Linked DNA regions of Homo sapiens: region 1 is linked to region 2. The links come from fine-mapping of genetic effects on gene expression. A gene starts in region 2. The other region holds a variant in brackets. All regions are shown on one strand. Distances are from middle to middle.

Evidence for each region.
Region 1: its variant is fine-mapped to the expression of MDGA1 in nasal epithelium (TOPMed, PIP 0.95).

Annotation. Positions count from the first base shown.
Region 1 is chr6:37,633,744-37,639,218 of GRCh38, reverse strand. MDGA1 (MAM domain containing glycosylphosphatidylinositol anchor 1) reads left to right here. Exons shown (of 17, transcript NM_153487.4): 15 at 552-682; 16 at 906-1,014; 17 at 1,760-5,475. The coding sequence ends at 1,851. Among named protein-coding and RNA genes, the nearest start is that of MDGA1, 61 kb to the left of the region's middle. The variant C/T (reference allele first, on the strand shown) is at 2,322.
Region 2 is chr6:37,695,997-37,701,224 of GRCh38, reverse strand. MDGA1 (MAM domain containing glycosylphosphatidylinositol anchor 1) reads left to right here and starts at 3,342. Exons shown (of 17, transcript NM_153487.4): 1 at 3,342-4,480. The coding sequence starts at 4,414. RefSeq lists silencers at 2,231-2,300, 2,321-2,390, 3,257-3,386, 3,407-3,476, 3,537-3,666 and 3 more and enhancers at 3,989-4,718, 4,719-5,228.

The DNA.
Region 1 (5,475 bases), 62 kb after region 2:
CCTCTCTGGCCTTCTGGACCCAACATACTCCTCTTGCCAACTGGGTATTACTGGACCTTACTGGGCCTTACTGGACCCAACATACTCCTCTTGCCAACTGGGTATTAAACATTTTAAAAGCCCTTCATCTCCCTCCACAAGTCATGTACTGCCAACAGGGACACACTGTTTTCTTTGGAAACCCTGCTGCGTGCCCAGACAGAGGTCCCACTGCCCTGGGACAGCTCCCTTGCCTAGAGGGGAAGGGTAGGGTGTGTGTGCATGTGTGTGTTTGGGGTTGGGGAGATTAGCTGATTAGCAGGGCAGGAAAGAAATGAAAGAAAATTTGCAAGTCATCCTGATGAAATGAAATCCTGCTGAAGTCTTCTCTTTCCCACACTGAGGGTGTCCCTGCAGGAATGGGACATTGCACCCAGCTGGGCATGGGGAGGAGGTCCTGTCAACAGGGACAGGGCTGCAGGCTATGGTGGGAGAAGAGGGCTTGGTAAATGTGGAAAGGTGAGGGTGCCCTGGCCAGATCTCACTGCCCACTGTCTTCACACCCACCGCAGGCTCCCTCAACCTCCTGGTGCGGTCCCGGAACAAAGGGGCTCTGGACACGCACGCCTGGTCTCTCAGTGGCAATAAGGGCAATGTGTGGCAGCAGGCCCATGTGCCCATCAGCCCCAGTGGGCCCTTCCAGGTGAGTCCGTAGGGCCCAGAGGACCCTCCCCGGCTTCGGTGGTTGCTGTGGCCAGGAAACACTTAGGAAAACCTTGTCCTTCTTCCTGGGGGCTAAGGATGGAAAGAGTCAGGTTAGGGGGAACTTCCAGGTAGATTAAGGGGAAAGGTGGGGTCGAGGGAGCACTCTGGTACCCAGCAGAACCTCCTCAACCCTTGCTCCTTGCTTTCTGACCCCACCCCAGATTATTTTTGAGGGGGTTCGAGGCCCGGGCTACCTGGGGGATATTGCCATAGATGACGTCACACTGAAGAAGGGGGAGTGTCCCCGGAAGCAGACGGATCCCAATAAAGGTGCAAGACGGGAAGGAGGTGGGGGAGCTGAATCTGGAGGGAGCTGTGCGTGGCGGGGGTTCCTGTCTGTTGAGGGAGGGTGTTTGGGTCTGAATAGGGGTTCAGAATGTCTGAGTGATGGGAATCATGTGGCTCTGACTGTGTGAAGGTGTGCCCCACACTCACTCAGGCTGTGTACTTGTGTAAACAATGAGAAGCCTGGCCCCCACCCTCGTGATGAGCATACTGACCTGTTCACGGTATCAGAGCGCCTCCTGTGCCTGTGTCTGAATACATCTGTGCGTACCTCTGGCTCCAGAGGTGAACGTGTGCCTTCCAGGGCCAGAGGTTTCCAATACTAACAGCTCCTACTTACTGAGCAATTACTCTGTACCAGGCAAGGCACACAAACTTGTATATGCATGTTTCACTTACCTCACAACAGTTAATCCTCACAACAGTCCTTTGGGGTAGTACACACCATTGGACCCATTTTACAGATGAGGAAACTGAGGCCCACTGAGGTCAAGTAAATTGTTCCAAGTCTTAGTGAATGTGAACCCTGGCAGGCTGAGCTAACCCCCACCCCACCCCACGCCACCTCATGTCTGTGCGGTGAGTTTGTCTGTGTGCACTGAGGCCAGTGCCCACCCTCAGGCCCTCCAAAGAGGTGGGCAGAGTAACAGTGCCGACCTGCCTGCCACTTCCTGCCCCTGCCAGAGCTGACCAGAGCCCTGGCCTGTCTCCTCTTTCTCCCCTGTTGCAGTGGTGGTGATGCCGGGCAGTGGAGCCCCCTGCCAGTCCAGCCCACAGCTGTGGGGGCCCATGGCCATCTTCCTCTTGGCGTTGCAGAGATGATGAGAGCTGTGTGGCCACCCCCCCAACCTTGCCCCCGGCACACCAAAGTGTCCACATTGTACCAAAGACTGACCCCCGCCAGCTGGGGTGCCCAGGGGCAGGGCCGGCCCGCCAGGGAGGGGGCCTGCATTGGCTGCAAGGATGAGCAGAGAACAAGGACAGAGGCCAGGCACTGAGGCCCTGGAGACAGCTGTTCCACTTGCACACACGCACACACTCATGCTCACACACACAGAGATATATTAAAGCACAAGTTTCTATCTGACCTGCCAGCACCTTCTTTACTGCAAAGACAGGGGACTTGCCTGAATGGCATCCGCCAACCCAGGGACCTCGGCGCAACATAGGCCTTGTCCTTGCTGCACTCGTGGTGTGCTTCTGACTTTACCCTGTCCCCTAAGTCAAGGCCGAACTCCAGCCTGGTGGCTTTGCCAGAAGGGAGCCAGAAGTGGGGCAGACATGGAGCCCCT[C/T]CCTTGGTCAGACTCTGGGACTCCTGAGATGGGAGAGGCAGGGATCAGAGGACGAACAGGTGGGACTTTGCGAGCTCTGTGACTGTCCCACGTCCAGGAGACAAGGAAGGTAGGGCACCTGCTGCACACGATTCTGTCCAGAGTGAGCACTGGATGGTGGAGACCATAGGTCACCCCAGATTCCTTGACCTATTTCTGGGACACCATATTTCCCTCCTCAGTGTGCACCCTTTGAAGGGACCCAGCACAGGGTCTTGGGCCTGGGCAGTCTGAAGACTGATAACTTCCCCACTCCACCCTACAAGCAGTGGGACTCCTGAGAACACGGTTCTCTCCTAGCCTCAGCCCCCAGCTGGGTCTCAGAGGAGCTGGGGGAGCGGTGGCCAGCCCATTTTCTGGGGTGAGGCTTGACTTGGAGAAAGGCAGAAGAGACGTCCCGCTTCTGTGATTTGGTGCCCCCATATCAGACAATGAATTTGGAAGTGGAGAGGGGCCTTCATTTCTTATCTACTTGGCATGAAAGGGTGCCCTGGATAGGAGGGTGTGTACAGGGCAAAATGCCAAAAAGCACTGTCTAGTTGAAAGTTCCCTTCTCCACCCAGGGGCAGTGAAGGAGGAGGGGCTTATAGAGCTGGGATTGGTGGAGGGAGCAGGTGCCAGTCCCCTCACTCTCTGGGAGCTGTGAAAGGGATCCCTGTCCTTGGGTCCTGGGTTAGGCACCTGAGATTGACATGATGGGATCTAGATCTTTCCTCCTTGACATCACCTGAGCCCCCACCTAGCCATCCATGGGAGAGAGAAGGCCCAGCCCCTTCTAGAATGACTCTTTAGGCATGCGTGCATATGTGTGTATGTGTTTGTGCCCGTCTGTGTCTAGGTACCACCGTGGGTACATTGTTGGGCAGGAGTGTGTGCAAACACAGGTCTGTGTGTGCAATCTCACATATCTGCCTGTGAGACTGGATTGAGACCCATTCGTTTCTATGAATGTCCGTGTACGTCAGCGTGTGTGTCCACCTTCCTGAGTGATGTGTTCGCTTGTAGGGTGCTGGCTGAATAGACTCTGTCCAGCCCTGTTCTGTAGTCTCAAGCTGCCTGCGATGGCCTGAAATTCCACCTTTCATCCCCTATGGATGACGGAGAGCTTACAGATGACCCTATTGAATGCAAGCACCTTTGGTGAGGAGCATCACAGGGCTCCTTCTGGAGCATTTGGTGGGGACAGCTGCAGAGAAGAGGCCTGGAACTCGGGCAGCACTGCAGTGCCAGGAGGCAGGCGGGGAACCGAGGCAAAGGCTGCCCATCTCCCCCTGCCAGGCCTGTGTGATCATTATCACCAACAGCTGGTGGGTGGCCGGGCCAGGATGCAGCGGGGCCTTCTGATGCCCAATCAGCACGGCTGCCTTCCTGACCCAGTCAAGGCCTCTGTCTGAAATGAGTCGCTCCAGGTTCTCAGCATACACTTCCATCGCGTCTGTCGGGTATTGTTCCTTAACTGTCCCATCTGTGCAGAGTCCATTGCCCCAACTAGACTGTGAGCTCCTCCTCTGAGCCTTCCAAGTCCCCCCTCCACCTTCGCCACCTCCCGCTCGTGCCCAGCACAAGTGAGCCTGGTGTGGAAACCACTCCATTGCCCGGTGGAATGGATTCTGTAATCAGTGGTTCCTGGCCTTGCCTGCAGAATAGAACCACCAGAGTCCTTTAAAAAGTATTGCTGCTTGGTTCCCACCTCAGAGGTTCTGAGTTAATTGGACTGGAGCGCAGTCGGACATCAAGAAATGTTGAAAAGCTCCTTGGGTTCTCCTGACAGCAGGAACCACTGGCCTGGCACCACCTGGGTGCTTCCTCTGTGCCCTCGCTGGGGTAGGCATTGGAGCACCAGAGATGAATAGCCCCAAGTGCTCCCTCTTTGGGGTTCCCAAGGCACCCTGTGCCTGCTTCCCTCAGAGGACCTTCCAATCCATTTGCCCCGCAACCCTGGCTGCTCCGACAGGGGAGACTTGTCTCCCTTGTTCCCCTCAGGATCCATAGAGTGGACAGTAAAGGTGCTCAGTACATGTTGGCTGAGCTGAACTGCATACATGTGGCCCCCAGGTTCCTGGTCTTTATGGACGAAGGGCACAAGGTGGAGGGGGGATGGGGGGATGCTGCTGGAGGTCTCAGTGGGTGCAGACAGCCCTGCCTTGAGGATGGCTTGACCTGGGATTGACAAAATGTGTCTGCTGAAATGCTGAGGTCCCCACGTGTGAATGGGTGAGGCTGATGTGGATGTCTGTGTGTGCCAGCAGGTGGGTGGGGGATGTGGGTGTCAGTGTATGCCAGTGGGCACTGTAAATGTCTAGGCATGTGCTGGTCTCTGTGTGTTTGTGTGTTCCTCAGCAGGAATGAGTGTCTTTGTGTATCACCTGGTGACTTGTCAGTGTCTGTGTCTGTGTGTGCCTGTGAGCCAGCATCTCTGTATCAGTGTTGCTCATGCTGTGTCTTTGTGCGCCATGGTGTGTCAGTGTCTGTGTGTTGATGGGTGGCCCATGAGTGACCCCCGCCAGGGGAGACCAGGCTGGCTGGATCCAGCACATCTCCCCAGTGGCAGCCTCGCCCTCTGGGTCAGGGTGACTGAGGCATTTTGTGGCCTTAAAACGGGGTGTTCAGGGTCAGCCCTCAGGGTGCTGGGGCCCTTCCATCCCTTGTCCCCTTCAGGTTGGTGAAAAGGACTCCGGGGGCCAGGTGCTGTATAGCAGCTTATGGAAGTCTCAGCTGGGCTATCCTGCCCTTGGGAGCACAGACAGGCTCCTAGGGTGCTGAGTGAAGCCTGAAGACCAAGCCCCCTCCTCCTGGAATGCTCCTTCCACCCCTACCTCTCAGAGATGGGCCTGACACCTCTTTCTCATTCATTCTCCTTTTCCCTGTGCTCTGGGAAAGCCCCTGGCTCAGGCTGTCAGAGTGAGGATGGACCTCAAAAGTTTGATCCCCTCGTGCAGATGAAGAAGCTGAAGCCCAGAGTGGGGAAGGGGAGTGGCCCAAGGTCACACAGCTAGTTTGAGTAGAGCCAGTCTTGGGAGAGCCAAGTACTACAGCCCTGGGGGTGTCACACCGCTTGTCACTGCCCCTGAGGTCTCCTGCCAAACAACTGCAGGGAGTTTGGCTAACAGTCCTG
Region 2 (5,228 bases):
TATATATATATATATATATATATATATATATATATACACACACACATATATATATATATATTTTTTTTTCTAGTGGGAAGTGACCTAGAATGATCTTGAGTGGAACCGAAGACTTGGCAGCTGGGTGCTGACCACCAAGCCTCCAGATAGCCTGACCTCAGGCTCATCCTGTGCCCTATGGCCCATGTCAGGTCTAGCAGTCTAGCTCTCATGTCCCCCCTGCCCTTGGTGCAATTTGGGGGCCAGAGTATTGTTCTCTGTGTCTGTAAAGGGAACAGGAAACAGTTCTTGTGGAAACATTATTTGATACCTAGGCCCTTGCCCCTCTTCAGTATAGAACAGTGGGAGAGGGCAAGGTCGCCGAGCCAAGCTACTGAGGTCAAAGCTCAGTTTGGCCCCTTAGCAGCTGAGTGAGTCACTACATCTTCCTATGTCATTCCATGAGAATAACAGCCCTGTCTTACATAATGGTTATGAAGATTAAATAGTTAATACAGTGCCTGGCATGTGGTGTCAGCTGTTATTCTTATTACTCCACTTCTCTCTAGGAAGACAGGGATCTTACCTAGTTTACATCTGGGGAAACTGAGGCCTAGAGAGGTTAGGACTGGGACGCAGGACTGATGTCTAGGGCTCTTTCCCTTCTCTGAGGTTGCCTCCCATTGTCAGACACTGGGCTGTGTTGAGGCAGCAGGCAGGGCACACTTGGGGGAGGAGACAGCTGAATTTACAGACACACACAAACAGGCTGTCAAGGTATTTACACTGCATACAATTAGCTGCAGAGTATTCACAAGTGGATTAGCTACAGCAAATGTTCAATCCCAGCCTGGCTAACTTGGTCCTCTGTTCCCCCCACCCCGCCATCATGAACCTTCTTTCTCCTCCAGGCTAGTGTGTGAGTTTAGAGAGGGCAAAGTCAAGAGAATGTCAGCTGAGTCAGTGCAGTTCTCTGTCCCCAGTAACTCACCCCAAAGCCAAAGAGGAGCAATTGACTGCTGTTTGGTGTTGGAACAGCTAATTGGAAAATCAGAGCGCAGTTTCGCACGACATGGAGAAGTACACATTCAGCTCAGAATGGGCAAAGCCAGGAAGAGCCACAGTCGCTGTGATCACTCCCTGAGAGCTTCCTGGAAGGGGTAGAGACTTCCAGGAACCCTCTAATAATGGGAAGAGGATGACAATAGAAGAAGCTATCCCTCATCACTCCCTCAATTGGCACCACTTCCTTTTCTGACTGGATGGGGGAGGCGGGAAGAGGCATGGTGGCTGTGTATCTCTGTGGGACAGAAAATGAATTTTTTGCCTTTGAGGTAACAGTCCGGGGCTGGGGAGTGAAAGGATGGCTACCCTGAGGGTATCCCAGGTCTGTGATATCTGGCCATGATGGGCATCATTCGTGAATTCACTGAACATGTCTGCAGCTGGCATCTGCTGGGAGCACCGCACTGAGTCTGGACTTCCTATCAGCCTTGGACCCACGGGGTAGAAAGGAGAGAAAAGACGGAAGAGGGCACAAGGGAGGCGCAAACGAGTGGAGGTGGGCTAGAGAATAGGAATCTTCGGATGTTCTCGGGCTTCCTGAGATGGACAGAAAGGGGGCTGAGAAAGGAAGGTGGAACCCCCCCATGCCACCAGGCACTTCCCGACACCTCCCGCTCCTCTTCCAGCAGTCAGGAGCGCGCGCTCCGGTGGGGCTTAAGCCCTGGAGAGTCAAGGGAGGAGAGACCCAGCAGGAAATGGGCCTGGGGAAGGGACGGTTCATTATTATTATTTTAAAAAAATTTATGTTTCAATTTATATGCAGACTAACCTTTTTGGAGTGTGGAGATCTTTGAGTTTTGACAAATGCATAGAGCCGTGGAACCACCATCAAGATATTGAGCAGTTCCAGGGGGCGAAGGGAGGGGGGGTTCGTAGTCTCCCCGCTTGTTAGCTGCTGCGATTGTCTGCGCTCCCACGGGCCGACCTAAAACAATTCTTGCGCACACGCTGAGATAAATAACGGCGACAGGTGGAGCAGGTGAGATTAGCAGGACCCGGGTTGGGCGCGGGGCGGGATCGGAGGCGCGGGGGAGGCCACCAGCCTCGCTTGCCAGCCTACGCCCCTCCCCGCGGGCGTTTGGGAGGAGCGTTCTCCGCACTCCTGCTCCGCGAGGGCCCCTTCGAGGCGGCTGAGACCCGAGTGCCGGACTCCCGCCGCTGGAGCGGGGCTCGGGTTCGGCAGCCGGAAGGAGGTGTGCCCCCGGGGCGCTTGGGGGCGCCTGAGGTCCCGAGGGGAGGCAAGATGGGAAGAGTGGCTAGCCGAGGAAAATGTGGGGTGACTTAGGGAAGCTCTGGCGGAGGGGTCGTGCGAGCAAACCTGTTGGCAACCTGTGGGCCGCGGCAAGGGCAGGAGCTCTCAGCGCGACCTCTCCGCCAGCTGCTCCGGCCCGGCCCCAGCACCAGACGCCTGGAAAGGGGCGGGGGCCTCTCGAGCCGGGCAGACAGCCTTGCAGACCCACAGCCGCGGCCCGTCTCGCGCGGCTGCAGGACCCCAGGAACCGCAGGCGCCCGGCCTTTCCCTAGGACCCCCGCTTCAGTCCCGCCTCCCCAAAGTGCAAAACATTTACGAAGTGTGCAGTGCCCTGCGGGCATGGGTCTCCGAAGCGAGCGGCCGTGTTTGCCCCGCGGGCTGCTGGCAACGGTGCACCCGGCTCGGCCAGCTAGTCTGGGTGTGCAAGGCTGGAGAACAGCGAGTGTGCGAGCGCGCGGCTGCAGAGCCCCCGCCGAAACCCAGGTCCCTCCGCCACTGTCCTCGGGATAGATGGATCCATTTCTGCTTTCTGACATTTTCCTGCTGGGCGGGGTTGGGGGGGAATGTTAGGGGGCGGAGAGAGGAAGAGAGAGAGAGGGAGAGGAGAAAGGGAAAGAGAGGAGAGGAGAGGAAGGGAGAGAGAGCGAGAGGGAGAGAGAGAGGAGAGAGAGAAGAGAGAGAGAGGAGAGAGAGAGAAAGAGAGAGAGAGAGAGAGAGAGAGAGAGAGAGAGAGAGAGAGAGAGAGAGAAAGAGAAAGAGAAAGAGAAAGAGAAAGGCAGGCAGTCAGCTTCCCCCAGCCCTGTTTTGTTTTCTCTAATTGGTCCTGGGGGAGGCGAGGAAATTGGACAGAGGCTGGGCCAGGCGAGCTGGGCTGCCTTTAATTGGCTCCTTTTTTTAACTGGAGGGGAATCAAACAGGAGAGCGAGCGACAACGGGTGGGAGAGCGAGAGACCGAACGAGGAGACGCGAGGAGGAGGGAGGAGGAAGAGAGGGAGGGAGGCGGGAGGAGCGCGGAATGAAAAGCTCGGAGGGGCGAAAAAGCAGCACAGCAAAGCCCAAGTTGCTGAGCGAGCGGAGCGCTCCCGCGGCCCGGAGCCGAGCGGCCGCCGCGCCCCGGAGCCCGGCCCGGCCCCGCCCGCTCTGGGCCCCCGCAGGCCAAGGCCGCCGGGCGGGGGCGGGGACGACCAACTTGGGGCGCGGCGTAGCCCCGCTCTCCCGAGAGCTCGGAGCCCGGGAGGGCTACGGCCGCGGCCAGACGGCGGGAGAGGAGCGCGGCGAGCGGAGGCGGCGAGCGGCGCCCGCGCCGCAGCCCCGGCCTGGGCGAGAGCGCGAATATTTTTCAAAAGACTCAAACTTTCCTCCTTTCCCCGTTTTCTGGGGCCCTTCTTGCCTGGAATTGCTCTCCAGATTCCCGCGGGGCGCCGGGCTGCTATTCTTCCCCCGGGTTTATCGGCGGCTCGGCTAACTTCACGGACCCGGGGACCCGCGGCGCTCGTCCCTCGGCCGAACCCAGCCCGCGCTGCTCCCCGGATCAGGAGGGCCGGGCCCGGGGCTGCTTCGCCGCCGCGAGTGCTTTCAGCCCGGCCCCCTGGAGTCGGGCCGCTGAGCCCACGGCAGCGGCCGCAGGACTGGAAACAGCAGATTGATTAACTCGAGCGGAGCCCCGGCCTCCCCGACTCCGCTCCGCTGAGGGGCGGCCCCAGTGCGGGGAAACGACAAGTTTGTCAGTCGTCCGTGGCCTGTTGGATCGAAGCGCCGCCTCCGCCGCCGAGAGGTCCCCGGCGCCTAGCATCCCGCGCGGACGGCCCTGGGTACCCGGGGCGGCTCGGCGGCCGGGCTCCTCGGGTCGGGGCGCTGGCTGCTGTGCCGGGCGCGCCGAGGCACCCGGGGCTGGGCCAGCGCCCCCTGCGTCCCCACGCGGGCAGCGGCCCCGCCGGAGGAGAAACACGGGTCGCCGCCACCTCCGCCTCTTCAGTCTCCTGGTCTTCGTCGCCGCTCTCTCTCTCACCTCTCAGGGAAAGGGGGGGACATAGGGGCGTCGCGGGGCCCCGGCGAATGCGCCCCCCGCCGCCTCTCGGGCTGCGCCGCCTCGCGGGGATGAAGCACCGGCCGTGAAGATGGAGGTGACCTGCCTTCTACTTCTGGCGCTGATCCCCTTCCACTGCCGGGGACAAGGAGTCTACGGTAAGAGCCCGCGTCCCGCTCCACCTTGGCTTAACCTCGCGCGGAAACTTTGCAAGAGGCGCAAAGTGCGCGCTGCCGGGGTTTGGTGGAGACCTCGACTCGGACTCTGGAGTGGATGCCCGCGTCCCCGCCCTCTCCAGGGCGCGTGGAGACCGAGCTAGCTGCTTCGGAACACAGGGGCCGGTCGTAGGGTCTGGTGGGAAGCCGGGATGTCAGGAGGAGGCACCCACTTTCCCACACCCTGCTAGAGGTGGGAATGATTAGGAACCCTTGAGAGCACCCGGTCGGCTCGGGAGACCCGGACAGACCCAGTCTAGGACTGGTGCAGCGACTTGCACCGAAACCTCGTCCTGGCTCGGCCTCCGGAGTGGAAGCCAAGCGATGCATGAGCCGGAGTTGCCGCGCGGCTTGCGGGCGAGCCGGCTGTCAGCACCAAGGCCGGGCGGCGGGCTCGCCTTCCCCGCTGTTGCTGCGGCTTCGCTTCTTCTACTCAGGGCTTGACACCCTGATCAGGATGCCGGCATCCCCTGGCCCTGGCGCCTTCGACCCCGGCATCCCTTTTCGGACCTTCCCTGAACCAGTTCTTCCTGTCCCCGGTTCTTGGCTACAAACCCCAACCCCACCTTCCTTCCTGCGCGCACACACAGATACATTCAGCCACCATCCCCAGAAAACGCAAACACGGCACGCACCCACCGGGATACGTGTCCAAACTCTGCCTCCTGCCACGCAGCCTTGCTCCTGCGTC